Linked DNA regions of Homo sapiens: all the other regions are linked to region 2. Evidence: fine-mapped expression QTL. A gene starts in region 2. Each other region holds a variant in brackets. All regions are shown on one strand. Distances are between the middles of the regions.

The links. PIP is the estimated chance that this variant, and not a neighbour inherited with it, causes the effect.
Region 1: its variant is the best candidate, but not a certain one, in a credible set for the expression of ZEB1 in macrophages (Alasoo 2018, PIP 0.65).
Region 3: its variant is the best candidate, but not a certain one, in a credible set for the expression of ZEB1 in whole blood (TOPMed, PIP 0.60).

What each region holds. Positions count from the first base shown.
Region 1 is chr10:31,157,987-31,162,229 of GRCh38, reverse strand. No RefSeq gene overlaps it. Among named protein-coding and RNA genes, the nearest start is that of LINC02664, 28 kb to the left of the region's middle. The variant C/TAC (reference allele first, on the strand shown) is at 2,285.
Region 2 is chr10:31,317,204-31,321,432 of GRCh38, reverse strand. ZEB1 (zinc finger E-box binding homeobox 1) reads right to left here and starts at 2,217. Exons shown (of 9, transcript NM_001174096.2): 1 at 2,141-2,217. The coding sequence starts at 2,198. ZEB1-AS1 (ZEB1 antisense RNA 1) reads left to right here and starts at 2,338. Exons shown (of 3, transcript NR_148979.1): 1 at 2,338-2,537. RefSeq lists silencers at 1,643-1,732, 1,773-2,222, 2,963-3,022.
Region 3 is chr10:31,439,161-31,443,403 of GRCh38, reverse strand. All of the region lies in intron 1 of ZEB1 (zinc finger E-box binding homeobox 1), which reads right to left. Among named protein-coding and RNA genes, the nearest start is that of ZEB1, 120 kb to the right of the region's middle. The variant T/G (reference allele first, on the strand shown) is at 1,840.

The sequences.
Region 1 (4,243 bases), 160 kb after region 2:
GAACTTTCTACCCAACAGCAGAAGAATACACATTCTCCTCAAACATATATGGAACATTCTCCAGGATGGATCACATGTAGGTTCCAAAACAAGTCTTAACACATTGAAGAAGACTGAAATCATTCCAAGTATCTTTAAGACCACAAGGGAATGAAATAGAAATCAATAACAGTGAGAAAGCAGGAAAACTCACAAATATATGGAAGCCAAATGGCATTTCCTTGATAATCATTGAGTCAAGAAATCAAAAGAGAATTGTTTAAATACCTCAAAATAAACAGAAATGAAAATGCAATATATCAAAACTTATGAGATGCAGCAACAAGACTACTAAGAGGGAAGTTTATAGCAATAAATGCTTGTTTCCATTACAAAAAGAACACCTCAAGTAACCTAATTTTATAGCTCAAAGAATTAGAAAGAAGAACAAACTTTTCCCAAAGTTAGCTAGAAATAATAAAGATTAGAGTGGGAATAAATCAAATACAGAATTAAAAGAAAGAACAGAAAAATCATCAAAGCTGAACTGAGTTTTCGAAAAAAATAAACAAAATTTGCAAACCCTTAACTAGACAAAATCAGAAGTGAAAGAGAAAACATTACAGTGGATGCCTGAGAAATAAAAAGGATCATGAGGGACTTTTATGAGCAATTGCACACCAATAAATTGGATAGCCTAGCAGAAATGGATGTGCTGCAATAAATATGTAACCTATTAAGACTTAATCAAGAGGAAATAGAAAGCCTGAAGAGACCAATAAGATATAAGAAAATTAAATCAGTAAACAACAACCTTCTAACAAAGAAAAGCTCAGGACCTGATGGCTTTACTGATTAATTCTATCAAACAGTCAAAGAATAATTAATAGCAATCCTTCTCAAACTCTTCTGAAAACTAGAAGAGAAAATACTTTCAAATTCATTTTGTGAACCCAGCATTACCCTGACATCAAAATCATACAAAGACACCACAAGGAAGAAAAATAAAAACTAAAGGCAAATATCTCTGATAAATAAAAAGCAAGAACCCTCAATACCAGCAAACTAAATTACTAGCAAACAAAGTCCAGCAGCACATAAAAAAGATTACACACCATGACTAAGTGGGATTTATCCCTGGGATACAAGATTGGTTCAACATATACAAATCAATCAACATGATACACTGTATTAACAGAATGAAAGATAAAAATCACATGATCATCCTAATAGATGCACACAAATCACTTAACAAATTTCAATATCCATTCTTGCTAAAAACTCTCAAAAAATAGGTATAGAATGAACTTACCTCAACAGATTAAAGGCCATTTATGAAAAACCCACAGCAAATGTCATAATCATTGAAGAAAATCTGAAAGCATTTCCTGTAAGGTCTGGTACATGAATGTCCACACTATGACTTCTATTCAACATAGTACTAAAAGTTCTCGCCAGAGTGATTAGACAAGAAAAAGAAATAAAAGGCATCCAAATAAAAAAGAAAGAAGTAAAATTATCTCTGTTTGCAAATGATATGATTATATATGTACAGAACCCTAAAGACTCTATAAAAAACTGTTAGAACTAATAAATTCAGTAAAGTTGCAGGATACAAAATCAACATGCAGAAATCAGTAGTGTTTCTTTACACCGGCAACAAATTATCCAAAAAGGAAATCAATAAAAAATCTCATTTATAATAGCATAAAAAATAATAAAGTATTTAGAAGTATATTTAAACAAGGAGGTGAAAGATCTATTACATAGAAAACTATAAGATATTGATGAAAGGAATTGAAGAAGACACAAATGGAAAGATATTCTGTGTTTGTGGACTGGAAGAATTAATATTGTTAAAATGTCCATACAACCCAGAGTTATCCAGAGATTCAACACAATGCCCATCAAAATTCTAGTGGTAATTTTCACAGAAATGGAAAATATAATCATAAAATTTGTATGGAACAACAAGCGATCCTGAATAGCCAAAGCAGTCTCGAGAAAAAAAAGAATGAAGCTGGAGGCATCACACTTCTCAATCCCAAAGTATATTACAAAGTTATAGAAAATAAAATCAGTATATTGAAGAGATAGCTACACTCCCATGTTCATTGCAGCATTATTCACACTAACCAAGATGTGGAAACAATCTGTGTCTGTCAACAGGTAAATGGATAAAGAAATTGCTAGATAGAGAGATAGATAGATAGATAGATAGATAGATAGATAGATAGATAGAATAGATGGATAGATAGATAATACATAGATGCATGTGTGTGTGATACACACACACACACACACA[C/TAC]ACTGGAATATTATTCAGCTTTAAAAAAGAAGGAAATTCTAAATCCTGTCATTTGCGAAAACATGGATCTCTACAGCTTCTAGGGGCTGAGAGCTGGGAGAAATGGAGACGTTAGTCAAAAGGTATAAACTTTCATTTATTTGAGATGAAGTAGCTTCTAGAAATCTAATGTACATCATGGTGACTATAGCTAATAATGCTGCATTGTATACTCGAAATTTGCTAAGACAGTGAATCTTAAGTGTTCTCATTACAAAAATAAGGTAATTATGTGAGGTAATGGATATGTTAATTAGCCTGACTATAGTAATCATTTCCCAATACATATGCATATCAAAACATCAAATTATATCTCAATAAAAGCAGTTATTTAATTTTTTAAAACCATGAATTTTGGGGGACACATTCAGTGTATTGCAGTTACTTTTTATGGCAAAATACCCCATCCTTTGTGCATTCCTTGGTCCTGCCTCCATCTCTTTCTTAAGGAGTCTCTTATAAAGTAGCTGTGTATTTCCTTAATCTCTTATGCACAAGAACAAAACAAAACAAGAAACACAAAATAAAATTCTTAAAACCTTCCTAGGGGAGCATAGGTTGTATTCATTCTCCCACCTTGTTTCTCCCCAGTAGGGGAATGTTGATTATCTATTCTGGAAGCCACTGGAAGAAAAGACTCCTAGTTTCCGAGTCAAGAAAATCTCCAAATATCTATTAAGTAACTATATTCAGGTGACCCTGGGGAGATTTAAAGATGGATAAGACATAACTTCTGCCTTTAAGGAGCTTAGAGACTGGGGTGAGAGGAGAAGCAATAGGATACTGATTAATATTTGTAGTAAAAGCCAGAACACTCAACATGCCATAGCGAAGTAAAAAGTGAGGGGAGGTCACATTGAAACAGAAGTTAGGAAAGTCTCCATGCAGAGGGTCCCCCTGAAATGGGCCTGGAGGGTTGCATTTCCCTAAGCAGAGAGTGTATTAATGAAAGCCAAGGCACGACAGCATGAAAGCCCAGGCTATAAAGAAATAAAACCACTTTGGGGGGCCGAGGCGGGTGGATCACGAGGTCAGGAGATCGAGACCATCCTGGCTAACGTGTTGCAACCCCATCTCTACTAAAAATACAAAAAATTAGTTGGGCATGGTGGCACGTGCCTGTAGTCCCAATACTACCGTTTGGGTGTACTTATTTCCCAGCTACTCGGGAAATAAGTAGCTGGAGAATCGCTTGAACCCGGGAGGTGGAGGTTGCAGTGAGCTGAGATCGCGCCACTGCACTCCAGCCTGGCGACAGAGCGAGACTCTATCTCGAAAAAAAAAAAAAAAAAAAAAGGAAAGAAAGAAAACCAGAAAGGAAAACTGGAGCACAGTTTAGAGCAGAGGCCAGCAAATGTTTTCTGTAAAAGGCCAAATAGTATTTTAGGCTTTGAAAGCCATGTGGTCTCTGTCACAATGACTCAACTCAGCTATCATAGCACAAATGCAGCCATAAGCCATACGTAAACAAATGGATGTGGCTATGTTCCAATAAAACTTTATTTATAAAAACAGGCAGTGGGCCAGAACGCACAAATAAAGAAACTATAGACCATGAGAAACCACTGAAGATTTGTGAGCAGGAGGATGATATTATAACATTGCCAATGCTATATATTTGGAAAACTAATCTGACTACCGGGAAATGCTATAATAGAATTGGAGGAAGTGGAGTTCCGTGTGGAAATAACAGCTGGGAGGCTGTTACAATGGTTGGATAAGAGGCCTGAATTACAGTATCGAGGGCAGAAATGAGAAGGCCAAATGTGTAGGATATGGTAACTTGTTGGACGCAGAGACAAATGGAGGGAGCAGAATTAAAGATCACTGCCAATTTGGAGCCTGGGGGATGAGGAAAAATTTGTGAGCAATGTAATAAGGGAGATCTGGGGGGCTGGATGTGCCACCGGATTCTCTTTG
Region 2 (4,229 bases):
CACTCCTTGCTATAACAAGTCATCTCTCCACAATGAGAATACCAAAATACCTTTCGTTTATAATCAACAGACGTCTTTAAAATGCAAGTGTTTATTTGAATAATTAAAATCACGAAAGCAGTGATTTTAATGATGGCTCGAATATATTAAAAATATAATTATGGATTGGAAGGAAACATCTTGAAACAGCTTAAAAATCTTCGTATCTGCTTCTAGACAGGAAATCCCACACAAAATCTAAAATTGCCAGGAAAGGTTACAAAACCTCGCGTTTCGCATCCCAGAGGGGAGGGAGAAAGGGAGCCCAGGCGCGGGGGGTGGGGCTGGGGGAGCACGAGAGAGTTTTCTCCTAAACACGTATTTCCTCGTTTTCTCGACGCTGCAGCGGTCCCATTATAGACGCATTTATTGCCCCTCTCTTAAAAGTCGTTTTAAAAATAACGCAGGAACCAAAGCGAGCCCCTCGGTCCGAAATGTACGTGTAATTCCTTATATAGCCTGGGCTGCGGCCGGCGGCAGGGCCGTTGCCGCCCATTATTATACAAACAGGTACCGGGGCGGCGCAGGCGGGGGCTGCTCTCCCTGCGCTCCCGCCGCCCCCGGGCGGACAAGTCTCGCCCCTCTCGCCACAGGAACTGTCCAGACAATAACAATCAGCAGACATTTCGCTGCTGCACGAGAGGGAGAGAAAGCATAGCATCGCCCCGAGATAACCAGAAATACAATCAACTTACAACGTCTCTCCAAACTGGAAAAGGCGACTGTGCAACCACCACCACATGTTCAGGTCTCGATCCCTCGGGCTGTCTCTCTTTTTTTTTAACTCTCACGCCAGGCAGAGGGGTGTGTGTTTCCCTTGGCACAGCAGCACAAATCAATAAACACTGCAGCTGCGGTGCAAGTAGCAGCCCCGCGCGTCCGTCGGTCCGTCCGCCCCCTCCCCCACCCTCCTTCCACCCGAGACCCAGAGCGCCATCCAAGCCCCATTATCCGGCTTCAGCGCTCCGTGCGTCCGGCCCAGGTAACAACTTCCCCAAAAACCGAAAGAGAAAAGCGCGAGGCGCACGCACACCGGCCCATCCCGGCGCAGAGACCTCGTCTGCCCCGGGAGGGGGATCTGTCTGTGGTGCTTCCCGGTCTCTAAGCCCAGGTAACAACTCCGCAAACACACCCGCCGCCCAGCTCGCCCCCATCCGCGCGGCTCCCGGCGGCGTTAAGTGGGTACCTTTCCTGCCTTGTTCCCCGCGCCGCCCCGCCGCGCCCCGCCAAACGTGGACCCCACTCGCGGGGCTCGCCGCGGAGTCCCCAGGCCGGGGCTCTGGGCCGGGCAGCGGGAGGCGCCAGGGAGGAGGGGCGCTTAGGGACCCGCGCCCCCGCGCCTCTAATCCCCGTTACGCGAGCGCGCCCGGCCCGCGGGTCCCAACTTTACCGCCGCCGGCCGAACCCTGTCCGCCCGCGGCGCGCACAGCCGGCGCCCGCGCACACGCGCGCACAAACCCCACGCAACCCGCGGCCGCCCCGTCCCGCCGCCGCCGCAGCCCGCCTGCCGCGCGCCCACAGCCCGGCCCGAGTCGCGGGGCCCGAGCGACAGCGACGGCGCCGGCCGGGGCCGCGGCGCGCGGAAGCCACTTTGCACGGTCAGCGCCGGGCACAAGTTTGTTCCGCGGCTCCCGGGGGCCTGGGCGCTGAGGGAGAATCGCGCTGAGGGGGCCAGGAGGAGGGGGAGAGGGAGGCGCCGAAGGGCACAAGAGTGGGGAAAAGTGCGGAAAGAAGCAACAGCCGCTCCACCCGGGACCAGAAAAGTGGCCAGTGCGTCCCGGCCGCCCGCCCTGCGCCGGGGATGCGGCGGCGTCGGCGCCGGCTAACGGTCCAGGGAGGCGGCAGGGGCGGCGGGAGCCGCTAGGCGGAGAGAGACCAGGTAAGAGACATAACGGTTCAGGGAGAGCGAGCGGCCGCGGCGCGGCTCCGGCAGCGGCGGCAGCGGAGGGGGGCAGAGAGCACTACTTTCTACTTTCCCACTCCACTTTGCCGTCCCTGCCCCGGCTGCCCCCAGCCCGGCTCGCCCCCCTCACCCCCGGGGGCGCCCCGGCTGCCCAGCTCCCCCTGACTCCGCCGCTCCCCGGTCCCCTCCGCCACTCACCGTTATTGCGCCGCGGGTTCGCCTGCTTTCTGCGCTTACACCTGGGGCCATCCGCCATGATCCTCTCGCTTGTGTCTAAATGCTCGAGTCACCTCCTCCCCCTCCCTCCCCCTTCCCCCCCACCCCTCCGCCTCCACCCCTCCCCCCTCCCCACCGCACCTGGTTTACGACACTCCCGGCTTTACGACATCACCTTCCTTACACCTAGAGGCTCTCGCTCTACGGCCGGAACCTTGTTGCTAGGGACCGGGCGGTTTGCGGCAACCGTGGGCACTGCTGAATTTGAATTGAGGGGCGAGGGAAAAGTTTTCCTCAGGTGTGGTGGGGAGAGGGAGGCGGATGCCGGGAAACCGTAGGGACGCGGTCAGAAAGGCGACGGGCTGTCGGAGTTGGAAAGGTAAAGTTGGAGGCTCGGCGGCGTCCTGCCTCCGCGCTGGCCACACCCGCCGCGGCTGCCCGGGGCAGGGAGGGATCTGGCTGATTCTCCCTGTACCCTGTGCCCTCGGAGCTGCCCCTCCGAGCGCCCAGAGGTCCCCGCCTGCCTGCTTCCTGGAGGCAGGGCTACCATCAGTCCCACGCCTCGCGTGTCCGCCCCCCGCACCCCGGGGCCAAGGAAAGGGATCGCGGTCTGGACTCCCCGGGGAGTTCCCTTGATGAGGGGAAGGGCAGGTTTGGGGACGGCGAGGACACGCGGCGACCGGAGAGAGGCTACCTGACCCGCGCAGCCCGGACTCCCTTCCCTTCCCTTCCAGGGACGCCTGGTTTCCCCCCAAGCGAACCGGGATGGGAAGTGACTTCAATGAGATTGAACTTCAGCTGGATTGAAAGAGAGGCTAGAAGTTCCGCTTGCCAGCAGCCTCCTTAGTAGAGCGGAATGAGTAATACCCACACGGTGCTTGTCTCACTTCCCCATCCGCACCCGGCCCTCACCTGCTGTCACCTCGGCCTCCCACACCCGGTCCGCGCTCCCCGCCCTCTTCCTCGCGTAGAACCGTGGGATCCTAGGTGGCAGGACTCAGAGCTAAGGTATCCACAGGCCATGAATTCCTTCCTAAATGAGCGGTCATCGCCGTGCAGGACCTTAAGGCAAGAAGCATCGGCTGACAGATGTGATCTCTGAACCTGATAGATTGCTGATTTTATCTTATTTTATCCTTGACTTGGTACAAGTTTTGGGATTTCTGAAAAGACCATACAGATAACCACAAATATCAAGAAAGTCGTCTTCAGTATTAAGTAGAATTTAGATTTAGGTTTCCTTCCTGCTTCCCACCTCCTTCGAATAAGGAAACGTCTTTGGGACCAACTTTATGGAATAAATAAGCTGAGCTGTATTTCAAGTAATATAGTTATAAATTAACAATGTAGCAGTTATTGATAGAGAAATTGAGAAAACTGAAACGTGACCGGAGTATTGGAAATAACGTAGTACATCACCTAGCACAATGACACATAGTAGGTGCTCAATAAATTTATGCTTATAATTTTTGTCACTTCTATGGCAGGATTTTTTTATTAGGTTAAAATTATCTTTTAAACACCTTCCGGAATTTTAGAATATTCATTAATAATGTCTTCAAACCTTTCAACTGAAATAAATTTACAGCTGAAGTCTGATGATTTAAAGTTAGAAAGTTTAATCTTGAATATAAATGAACATTTTCTCTCCCACATTTTCTTGGGCATTTTGAGAAGTAAATGCGTTATTTATTGGTCCATGAAATGTGACTGTAAATATTCTTTGCTATACATTATGTCTATATATCTGCATTCATCCTCAATGCCAAAACTAGAATCATTAGTCTTAATGATCATTTTAAGTACAGGCAGTCCTCGCTTTCCTTGATACCATGTTAACCGAAACTTGTGTATGTCAACACGGTGTCCTTGCTTTGCTTGGTTAAGTGTGAGTTCTTCCTCCCTTTTTTTAAGAGTTGTACAATGTTTTTCAGTCGCCTACCGAATCAGGTCATAGACTATGGAATTGACCCCACCCCACCAACATTTTTACAGCTACCCTGATTTCTGACCAGAAAGGAAAAAAAAACTTTCCAGCTCTATCACACATTTTACCTACTCTTAAACTTAG
Region 3 (4,243 bases), 120 kb before region 2:
ATAGGCAAATCCTTTTACAAACCTGGAATAAGAAGGCCATTATAAGCATGAAATGAAACCCATAACTATACACAGAAAAAAATCAAGTCAAAAGACAAACGACAAATTGTGAAAAATATGTGCAACACATATGACTAAAGGCTGACATCTTTATTTTACAGAGAATTCTTAAACACTCATAAGATGAACCACCCAGTAAGAATATGCACAAGCAATTCGCACACACAAAAATGAATGCCCAATAAACATGTAAAAAGATGCTCAACCTCAGTAACAGAAGAAATATCCATTTTAATCTTATATTTTTATAATCACTTCTCACGTACACTCTCAACTTTCTTGCTCTCTCTGGCTTCAAAATCTCTATGCTGGCTAATCTCTTACCTTGATTAAACTCCAGCACTCCTAATTCTATATCTCAGTCCCTCTATACTTCAAAGCTTTTTGGAAAAGTTGCCTACATGTGTCTCTAATTTGTTTCTTCCTATTTTATCTTAAATTACTCCAATTACAACACTCCACCAACACTGTTCTTGTCATGACTGTGAGCACTGCTAAATGCAATGACAATTATCAGTCCTCATTTGACTTGATCTTTTAGCAGCATTTGACATAATTCATTACTCTCTCCTTTTCAAAACAATCTCTTCTCTTGACTCTATCAGTTTCCTCTTAACTCACCAACTGCTTCTTTTTCGTTTCTTTCCTCCACTTCCTCAATCTGTTTCATGGCTCTAAATGCCATTTGTTGACTCCCAGTTTTATATCCCAGGTGACTTCTCCTATGAATCCCAAATTATCTACTTGATAGCTCCACTTGGATTTCTTTTTTTTTTATTATTATTATTATACTTTTAAGTTCTAGGGTACATGTGCACAACGTGCAACTTTGTTACATATGTATACATGTGCCATGTTGGTATGCTGCACCCATTAACTTGTCATTTACATTAGGTGTATCTCCTAACGCTATCCCTCCCCCCTACCCCCATGCCACGACAGACCCCGGTGTGTGATGTTCCCCACCCTGTGTCCAAGTGTTCTCATTGTTCAATTCCCACCTAAGAGTGAGAACGTACAGTGTTTGGTTTTTTGTCCTTGCGATAGTTTGCTGAGAATGATGGTTTCCAGCTTCATCCATGTCCCTACAAAGGACATGAACTCATCATTTCTTATGGCTGCATAGTATTCCATGGTGTATATGTGCCACCTTTTCTTAAACCAGTCTATCACTGATGGACATTTGGGTTGGTTCCAAGTCTTTGCTATCGTGAATAGTGCCGCAATCAACATACATGTGCATGTGTCTTTATAGCAGCATGATTTATAATCCTTTGGGTATATACCCAGTAATGGGATGGCTGGGTCAAATGGTATTTCTAGTTCTAGATCCTTGAGGAATCGCCACACTGTCTTCCACAATGGTTGAACTAGTTTACAGTCCCACCAACAGTGTAAAAGTGTTCCTATTTCTCCACATCCTCTCCAGTACCTGTTGTTTCCTGACTTTTTAATGATTGCCATTCTAACTGGTGTGAAATGGTATCTCATTGTGGTTTTGATTTGCATTTCTCTGATGGCCAGTGATAATGAGCATTTTTTCATGTGTCTTTTGGTTGCATAAATAAATGTCTTCTTTTGAGAAGTGTCTGTTCATATCCTTCACCTACTTTTTGATGGGGTTGTTTTTTTCTTGTAAATTTGTTTGAGTTCATTGTAGATTCTGGATATTAGCCCTTTGTCAAATGTGTAGATTGCAAAAATTTTTTCCCATTCTGTAGGTTGCCTGTTCACTCTGATGGTAGTTTCTTTTGCTGTGCAGAAGCTCTTTAGTTTAAT[T/G]AGATCCCATTTGTCAATTTTGGCTTTTGTTGCCATTGCTTTTGCTGTTTTAGACATGAAGTCCTTGCCCGTGCCTATGTCCTGAATGGTATTGCCTAGGTTTTCTTCTAGGGTTTTTATGGTTTCAGGTCTAACATTTCAATCTTTAATCCATCTTGAATTAATTTTTGTATCAGGTGTAAGGAAAGGATCCAGTTTCAGCTTTCCACATATGGCTAGTCAGTTTTCCCAGCACCATTTATTAAACAGGAAATTCTTTCCCCATTTCTTCTTTTTGTCAGGTTTGTCAAACATCAGATGGTTGTAGATGTGTGGCATTATTTCTGAGGCCTCTGTTCTGTTCCATTGGTCTATATCTCTGTTTTGGTACCAGTACCATGCTGTTTTGGTTACTGTTGCCTTGTAGTATAGTTTGAAGTCAGGTAGTGTGATGCCTCCAGCTTTGTTCTTTTGGCTTAGGATTGTCTTGGCAATGTGGGCTCTTTTTTGGTTCCATATGAACTTTAAAGTAGTTTTTTCCAATTCTGTGAAGAAAGTCATTGGTAGCTTGATGGGGATGGCATTGAATCTATAAATTACCTTGGGCAGTATGGCCATTTTCACGATATTGATTCTTCCTATCCATGAGCATGGAATGTTCTTCCATTTGTTTGTATCCTCTTTTATTTCCTTGACCAGTGGTTTGTAGTTCTCCTTGAAGAGGTCCTTCACGTCCCTTGTAAGTTGGATTTCTAGGTATTTTATTCTCTTTGAAGCAATTGTGAATGGGGGTTCACTCATGATTTGGCTTTCTGTTTGTCTGTTATTGGTGTATAAGAATGCTTGTGATTTTGCCCATAGATTTTGTATCCTGAGACTTTGCTGAAGTTGCTTATCAGCTTAAGGAGATTTTGGGCTGAGACAATGGGGTTTTCTAAATATACAATCATGTCATCTGCAAACAGGGACAATTTGACTCCCTCTTTTCCTAACTGAATACACTTTATTTCCTTCTCCTGCCTGATTGTCCTGGCCAGAATTTCCAACAATATGTTGAATAGGAGTGGTGAGAAAGGGCACCCCTGTCTTGCGCCAGTTTTCAAAGGGAATGCTCCCAATTTTTGCCCATTCAGTATGATATTGGTTGTGGATTTGTCATAAATAGCTCTTATTATTTTGAGATACGTCCCATCAATACCTAATTTATTGAGAGTTTTTAGCATGAAGGGCTGTTGAATTTTGTCAAAGGCCTTTTCTGCATCTATTGAGATAATCATGTGGCTTTTGTCTTTGGTGATATCACCACTTGGATTTCTAATGGGAAATTTTTTACCATAGCCAAATACAATTCCTGGTCTCTCAGTCTTCTCTATTTCAGTAAACGGCAATTCCATTCCTCCAGTTGTTCAGGCCAAAAGTCTCAGTGATAGTTTTGACTCCTCTTTTTCTCTCATATCCCATGCATCTACTCTGGAAGGAAATACCTATAAAAATATATTCAAGATCTGACCACCCACTACCAATTCCCTGCCACTAACTACCTGATGGTACCATCATCTCTCACTTCGAGTACTGTCACTGGTTCCTATCTGGTCTCCGTGCTGCCACCTTTGTCTTCCTGTAGTCAGTTCTCAACACAGCAGACAAAACCTTCTAAAGCATCAGTGGAATCTTGTCAAACCATCTAATGACTTCCCATCCTATTCACTGTAATCCAAGGCCCTCCATGGGCTGACTCTCCTCACCTGTCTCTCTCAGACTTTGTCTTCTACTTTACCCCGGCTCACTGCATTCCAGGTATACTGGCCTCTTGCTTCATATCACTCTACCTGTAATATTCTTTATGAACTGCCCAATTCCACCTCCTCAGGGAGGTCTCCTATGACTGCTCTATTTAAATACCACCCCCACCCCCATTGCACTCCCTATTCTCCCTCAATTTATTTCTTTTAAAAATACTTGTCACTATAATATCTTATTGATTGATTATCTACTACACTACAATGCAAGTTCCATTCAGACAGGAATTTTTTCTGTTTCGATCACCACTGTTCCCCTCATCTAGAACACTGGCTGTAGATACTAATCCCTAGATAAATGATGTTTAGTAAATCGGCAAAAAAGTCCCAGTAACGCCTGACATATGCAAGGTTTAAATAAAAGAGTACACTCTTATATGCTGTGTTACTTTGGCAATATTTATCAAAATTTAAAATGCCGACCTGTTGATCTAACAATTTCTTGGCACCGTGCAAATTAACACATGTATGCAAATATGCATACATATGTTTATCTGAAAACTTGTTTTTAATTACAAAAAAACCTTAATAGTCATCTAAGATATATTGTTTGGTACTGATATAGAAAGTCTTCCAAAATAGTTTGATTCCATCCTTCCAGAAAATACAGTAGATGCAGTATAGTA